Homo sapiens: one gene and its partner. The protein of the gene in region 1 purifies or fractionates together with the protein of each later gene. This does not show direct contact. Each region holds a gene or a part of one and is shown in the gene's direction. Other genes may lie near its edges.

Region 1 (3,815 bases):
GGGTTTCACCATGCTGGCCAGACTGGTCTCGAACTCCCGACCTCAGGCGGTCCGCCCTCCTCGGCCTCCCAAAGTGCTGGGATTACAGGCGTGAGCCACCGCGCCCGGCCTGAGAGTCCTTGCTTTGTCAAAGCATGGTTTATTTATCTAAGTCACAAGCTTGTTTCACATGTTGAAATGAGTCCTTTACTTGAAATTTCTGAGGATCATACTGGTTGTGTCTGCCATGGCTGATGAGAGGTTTATGAGCTGAAAAGTCACTCAGTGCCTGCCTCCATGAATGAGGCACACCCAAGTCATTCCGAGGAACTAAAGGCCCTTTCAAATGTCAAAAGACAAATTTGCCAGCCAGACCATGACAGCACACCCCCGGCTTATCCTTTGACACCCACCAAATTGTCATCCATGGTAGCCCTGAAGTCACTACAGACAATTTTTGTCCCCTCTAATATATTTCCAAGTAAGTATCTTCCAAATGTTGACTGGAACAAAGTGTTTTTAAAAACTAGAATAAAAACTTAGCAACACGGAGTTCCTTACTGTTGAAGCCAGGCTCCCATCCACGCTGGTTTCCTTCTCCTGAAGCTCTGCCTGTGTGGGTGCACTAACATTTAAAATGCGCGCTGTCATCTTCACAATTTTGCCAGCTCTCAGTTAGCCCTGATGCTGCTGTACTCGGCCTTGGGTCTTGAGCAGGCTGCTTCCTGGAGGCCTGGGTTTCCTCTCGGAAAGGTAACCTTGGAATCCCTTCCACATCTCAGTCCTGGGCCTCCTCCTCGCTGGGGCTCATCCTAGTTAGTGGCAGCAGGCCCATGTGCCTCCTCTAAGACACAGGTTCTTTCTCAAACACCCAGAAATGGGCCTTTTGTCAAAAAGAATTATCACCAGGGCTTGGTTTCCTCTCAGTTCTAGTCAGAAAGACCAATTATGAAAGAAAACAGTGCCACCTAGTGTTAAAATTAAATCACCGGACCGCACTGCTGGTTTGGGGGCCGTCCCCTGCCTTTCTAAAACATCTTGTCACCTGCCTGCTTAGAAGCCTGTTTCACTCCCAGACCCCTGAGACCTGTCATTTAGAGCTCGGAGCCCAGTGCAGATTCCTCTATCCCAACCTGCCTTTATAATGTTGCCCCATCATCCCCTGCCCCAGGTGGTTTTCACACCATTTTCTCTGGAGCCCATGAACGGCTTGCAGGGGTGGACAGTATGAGCTGATGAGTTTCTAGGCCTGTGCTACATATCTAATCAGATCGCCTTTTTTCTCTTGTAAATAAATATTGGGCTATGTAAGATATTAATTTTAAAAATGATTTCCTGGCTAGAGAAGAATTTTAAAGATTACCACCCTACGCATAACTTTACCTAAAATACAGGCTGTTCCAGAATGTTCCATACTCCCTGTGTGTTTCATTTGGCTGCTTAAGTTTCATTTATTCTTCTCCATAGGTCAAGGCCCATCAGCCTGCAGGGACAACCCAAGCCAGCCCCTCTGAGCCGTCACCTCTCCACGTATCTTACTCCTGGGCCGTGCTGCACACATTAACCCTTAGTTGTGAAGTTGCACGTGTGCGCATCTTGCTTCAACAGGGAAGCTATGAGTACATGGGCAGTGGGGACTTTATGTTTTTGGTTTGTGTCTTCCGGCAGGTTTGAGAAGATGATCAGTGGGATGTACATGGGGGAGCTGGTGAGGCTTATCCTGGTGAAGATGGCCAAGGAGGAGCTGCTCTTTGGGGGGAAGCTCAGCCCAGAGCTTCTCAACACCGGTCGCTTTGAGACCAAAGACATCTCAGACATTGAAGGGTGAGCTTCTGGCCAGCCCCCTCTATTTGCTGGATCACCACACGAGTTGACGGGTAGTTGGGGAATGAGGAGGGGGCTGTACCTTTTGACTCTTCAAGTATAGACTGCAAGAGGGTCTCACATGACGTGGACCATGGCGGGCCTGTGGCTTCACTTCACTTACCAGTCTCCACTCTTGTCGATTTCGATTGTGATTGCTACCAGTGACTCATGGTACTGGGAACGGTGGTTGGCCTCCATATGCAGGGACTTGGGCTGTTGCACTGGGTTTAAAGCTGGAGGACCCCAGAGGGCCCCCGAAAGACTTAGCTGCATCTGCCTCCTTTTCCTTCTCCTGAAGCTCTGACATCTGATTCCCTATTGGCAATTCTCAAAAAGGACTCTGTCATGACCCCTGCTTCATAATAGAAAGCTAGGTCTTTGAATTGGCCAGAGATATAGCTACCCAATTAATTCTAATAAGCAGAGCTGGGGCCTGCATTTTCACAGCCCAGCAGGGGCAAGAGTGAGGATGGCTTGATTTTTGTTGTTGTTAACAATATCCCAAGAGTCAGGCGGGCCTCGTTTACTGTTCTTGAGATTTCCACTTGTAGATTGAAGAAGTCCTGGTGTTTCAGGGACCAGATGGTGGAGAGGAGGTGTCTTTGGAGCCAAATGGAGCAGTGGAACAGTGCCAATGACTTTGTTTTAAGGGGAAACTCTTGAAGGAATGGGGCCTACTTGTTGCTATACCCCAAGGTGATGCAAGTACCCCAAGGTGATGCAAGATTTAGTTCCCTTGAGAAGGGTGCTAAGGTTATAGCACTAGCCCCTTACCAACCATCTTTAGACACAAGCTAAAGCAGTGCCAAGTCCATGGTGAAATGCAATAGACTCCTACTGCTTTAGAGAGAGAAACCAGGTGGGCATCACCGCAGGGTTCACATGTTGAGAGTGGCTGACAGCAGAGACACTGTCTGTCTCCCCTAACACAAGCAGATGTAACACAAACTCTCACACACACAACTTGGTGGTAAAGCACCAAGAACAGGGCCTTGTTTTTACATAGCACATGCATAAGAAATACTTGTGTTTCTCAACTCCGTGTGTCTCTGTGTGTGTGTGTGTGTGTGTGTGTGCGCACGCACATGCGTGTGCGTGTGTGTGTGGTGTCTGGGAGAGGAGCCTCAGGGTGGCTGTGCTATATTTTGCACCCCCTTCCTCCTCCTCCTGCCCCTGCACAGGTGGACTAAGCAATGAAGAGGGATTCTGTCCCCACTGGGTGGTGAATTTGCTGGAACTAAAGGGCTTCCTTGCCACCCCCCGACACACACACTGGCCACAGTGGGTCAGACACAGGCCCACATGCTATCTTTCTGTTTCCCAGGGAGAAGGATGGCATCCGGAAGGCCCGTGAGGTCCTGATGCGGTTGGGCCTGGACCCGACTCAGGAGGACTGCGTGGCCACTCACCGGATCTGCCAGATCGTGTCCACACGCTCCGCCAGCCTGTGCGCAGCCACCCTGGCCGCCGTGCTGCAGCGCATCAAGGAGAACAAAGGCGAGGAGCGGCTGCGCTCTACTATTGGGGTCGACGGTTCCGTCTACAAGAAACACCCCCAGTGAGTCAGTGTGCAGGGCCTGGAGATGCGGAGTTCCTGGAGTACCTGGGGCTGAGTGACTCCTCATGCCAGCTCCATTTTGCATTTCAGGGGTGGTGTGGAGGGACCATAGAGCTGAGGGTCTTGGTGGAATGAAAGTTCCCACCTGGGCAAGGGGGAATGGGAGGAAGTCATATCTGGTGTGGGTGGAGGTGATTTCTGAAGGCTACTGATGACTCGGGCTCTCCGCAGAGCTCCTCTGGCTGCTGGACACTCTCTTTGCCACCCTCTTGTATGCGTTATTGTTCCTGTCTTTACTCTTAGAATTCTTGGTGATTCCTGCAGGTGCTATGTCCTCTGCCAGGGACCACCCCAGCCCAGTGAGGGTTACCAGCTTCTCTGGCTGACCTTGGTATTAAATTGATCCTGCCCT
Region 2 (3,815 bases), on another chromosome or scaffold:
TACTGTGTGTCTGAAACCTGCTCGTCCCACCACCACCGACAGCTGAGTGGATTGACCAGTCAGCTTTGCTTTATAGGACATAGGGTCTTGGCATCCTAATGCTTGAGTGAGTAGGACTTCACTTGACACACAGGCATCCACACTAGGTCCTCAGACTGCTGGTCAGTGTCTTTGGAGCAAGGTCCTCCATTCTTCTGTAGCAAACAGAGGGATTCCTGTCCCTTTCAGTGGGGCGTCCAGGGCCACAGCAGTTCCCACATGTGCCCCTGGCCTTGCTCCTGCTCTGCATACCTGCCGACTCCCAACTGGAGCCTATGTAGCTGTGGCTTCTGGATGTCTCCTACCCTATAGGATTTGTCTCCTGTGCCCCTCCTCCTTTTGTCTTCTGCAGATTTGTTGACATCTCATCTGTTCCTGGCCTCCCTCTTCCCCCATTTTCACTGTCTGGGGTTTTTCTCTTCATGCCTATTATGCCTGCAGTTCACAAGAGGTCAGAGAGATGGCTGTCTGTTCCCAGTGTGACATCTTCACCTGGGACCTCTGGAAGCATTTCTTGTCTGGTTTTCTCCCTTGATGATTTGGTTCATTCCCCTGGGTAGGCAGTGTGAGAAGCTTCCCCAAATTTGGAAATTATTATGTTATATAGAGCTGGGTGGGAGAATTATATTTGTTAAGTGAGCTTGTTCTTGTGAAGGCAGGCTGAGGAGCCTTGGGCCCTCTGTGTCGTGTTTCCATTGCACACAAGTTCATGGTTAGACATGATTTGGCCCAACATGTGTCTGGATCATTTCAGGAGTGAGTGGATCTGTTGTTCCATTTGCTCACGTTCCTCATGGTGTTAGAAGGTAGGGAGTGAAGCTCAGTTGCCTATTGTTCAATAGGACTAGCCAAGTAAATACCCTTTTCCGTGGTAAATTCCCCTATGAAAGGTCATGCAAGTGGAACTGCGATCTCATGAGAGGATGCTTCCTTGGAGTCTGCATGTGAACCTGGCAGAGCCGCCTGTGGTTAGCAGAATATCTTCGCTGTGTCCCCCAGTGGGCAGCCTTCTGCCACCTTCTCCCCTCACTGCATGGCTCAGGAACTATCTTTCATTTAGTAACTATCTGATGGGCTGGATGTGGTGGCTCACATGTGTCATCCCAGCACTTTGGGAGGCTGAGGCAGTAGGATCACTTGGGGCCAAGAGTTCGAGACCAGCCTGGGCAACAGCAAGACCCCTGTCTCTACAAAAAATAAAAATAAAATTAGCCAGGCATGGTGGCACGTACCTGTAGTCCCAGTTACTCGGGAGGCTGAGGTGGAGGGATTGCTTCAGCCCAGGAGTTTGATGCAGCAGTGAGCTGGGATCACGCCACTGCACTCCAGCCTGGGCAATGCAGTGAGGCCGTGTCTCTTAAAGAAAAAGAAGAAAAACTGACAGCGGTGACTCCTGCACATCATTTCTCCCATTTCCATTTTTTATTTACGAATATTTAAACTACAGTTAGGTTATGGTATTGTATTTCATTGGAAATACTAAACTCCAGTTTGGAAAATCTATCAGTTTGGGTTGTCTTTTTTTCCAATCATTTTATAAGCGTTTAATGAGCCATCTACCAAATGACATGGAGAGTAGCTTCCAAATTATTTTTATTCCACATACCTATTAGAAAAAAGTTTTAAGTACTTGATCCCAGTGTCTTCTTAATGCATACATTATACAGATACAAAATGTAAATGGAAGTTCTGTTTTATTTCCTCTTCTAATTACTGACCTGTGAACCTCCTGGGGTATGCATACCCTGCTTTGGAGACTGCTGGCTGGAATACATGATATGAAGTAAAAGGAACCCTACTCCCACAGCTGCCAGTCCAGTTCTGGAGACGGACAAGTGGTGGGGCAGGGATAGGTGTTCCTAGGGCGGTGGGGAAGGCCATGGGGCCAGTCTCTGCCTAGGACAGGCTCAGAGGGAGGAGGGTGAGCTGAGGCTTTTAGAGGCTTGGTTTTGTAAAGAACCAAGACAAAATGCAAAACCATGTGCGAGTGTTGGTGGTATATTGGTGAGCATAGCTGCCTTCCAAAACCAAAGGAGTTGGTCTCATACTCTTGGATGAAGACCAGGCTATAGTCAACCAGGCAGTGCAGTGGCTCATGGAAGGAAGAGGTGGTGCTTGTCTCTTGTACAGCAGTCCTGGGGTGAGCAATTCAGGGTGTGCAGCCCCCTCAGCTTTCTTGGTTGCTGTGGTCCAGGGCTGGGCTCCTGCGTCTCCCAGGTAGCCACAAGGGGAGGCAAGGAAGAAATACCACTTGTCTCCTCTGCTCACTTTTTGCTGTGACAATTGGTCTCCGTTAACTGGAGAAGGGAGAAGAAGATTGGGTCACAGCAGCTTCCACCACAGCATTTTACGTTACCAGTTATGCTGAGAAAGATTTTCTGGTGGATTTACTAAATGAGCTGACATCTTCAGGTTGCTCTAGGTATAAATTAGGCTGGTATGGTTTTCTTCACTGAGATGCCTGGTGAGCCTGATGACAGCGCTGTAGTGTGCAGTCAGGTACCTTGGAAACCATCACCACTCCCACCGTACAGCACACCAGTGGTCACCCTGATAGGAGAGATGATTTTCTTCTGCTGTGTCCCCAGGTCTCAGTGGCCCTTAGCAGCAGCTCCATTCGTGTGGCCATGCTGGAGGAAAATGGGGAGCGCGTCCTCATGGAAGGGAAGCTCACCCACAAGATCAACACTGAGAGTTCTCTCTGGAGTCTCGAGCCCGGGAAGTGCGTTTTGGTAAGTTTGGGCACCTGTGTGTAGGGCTCCCAGGTGGACTTCAAACCTGCAGTGATGCCCCTTTTGACCAACAAGCCTATTTACACTTAAGCAGTGAGGTTGTTAATTTCAGCTGCTGGGGCAGATGGGTTTTCCTGAGCATTTTCCATACTGCTCAGAGATCGTCTCTGTGGGCACTTGAGCTTTGGCCCTTTGAGGTCTTGGTCATTCCCAAGAGCTCCACTGTTCTTACATCTAAGGCAAAAACAAGTAAATTGAAAATGAAAAGCTAGGTTGAATTTTTACAGATGCTACTCTGGAGGGTACAGAGTTAATAAATTCAGAGAATCAGGCTCATTGACCAACTGGCTGTCCTTAGCCAGCTGCTGGTTAGGCATAGCTAAGAGTTCAGGACAGTGAGATTAAGGTGTGACTCCAAATGAACAGCTCACATGTTACCAGTTAGCAGACTCGCTCACAAATTGGGCTGCACGCCTGGGCCAGATCTGTTGGTGGCTCAGCTCCTTCTCCCCTGTGAAAGCTTTGAACCTTGTCAGTGGTGGCTCTGTGCTGGTGCCCAAGTGGAGGTCACCTACAGATAAATTGAGGCACAACATGTTCTGAACTAACTTGTTTCCTTTTTTTCTCCTACTGGGGTGTTTACAGGGCATGGTAAAAGGAATAAAGGTGAAAAGAAAAATATAATGTCTGGACAAAAGTCTTTAGAATTTTATACAGATATATTCTTCATATGTGCAAAGTATGCAATAAAGGTATCTGTTTTGGTTTCTATAAGACATGCTTGGCAGGCTTCTGCCTGGGCTTCCCTGGCCAGTGCTGACTGGCAGGGACAAACTATCTCTCAGGCTCACAGTGACTCTGTCCTGGCTGTCCTCATGCTCGGAGGGACATGCAGGCCAGGTACCGAAAGGAGTGTATTCTGTCAGTGCTGCAGAAACCTGGACCAACCTTGACTCTGGTCTTGATATCAAACCTGGACAATGGAGCTCACTCTGGCTACACAGAGGTGGGGCCAACCTGGGCACAGACAACATGCTCCTTGGT

The links.
Region 2: the proteins of HK2 (region 1) and NUDCD3 fractionate together in Homo sapiens (co-fractionation; one large-scale study listed by BioGRID). This does not show direct contact.

What each region holds. Positions count from the first base shown.
Region 1 is NC_000002.12:74,875,519-74,879,333, forward strand, and holds part of HK2 (hexokinase-2), read left to right. Parts: intron 1-1,647; coding exon 1,648-1,803; intron 1,804-3,169; coding exon 3,170-3,403; intron 3,404-3,815. UniProt on the Homo sapiens protein: Catalyzes the phosphorylation of hexose, such as D-glucose and D-fructose, to hexose 6-phosphate (D-glucose 6-phosphate and D-fructose 6-phosphate, respectively).
Region 2 is NC_000007.14:44,403,396-44,407,210, reverse strand, and holds part of NUDCD3 (nudC domain-containing protein 3), read left to right. Parts: intron 1-2,627; coding exon 2,628-2,771; intron 2,772-3,815.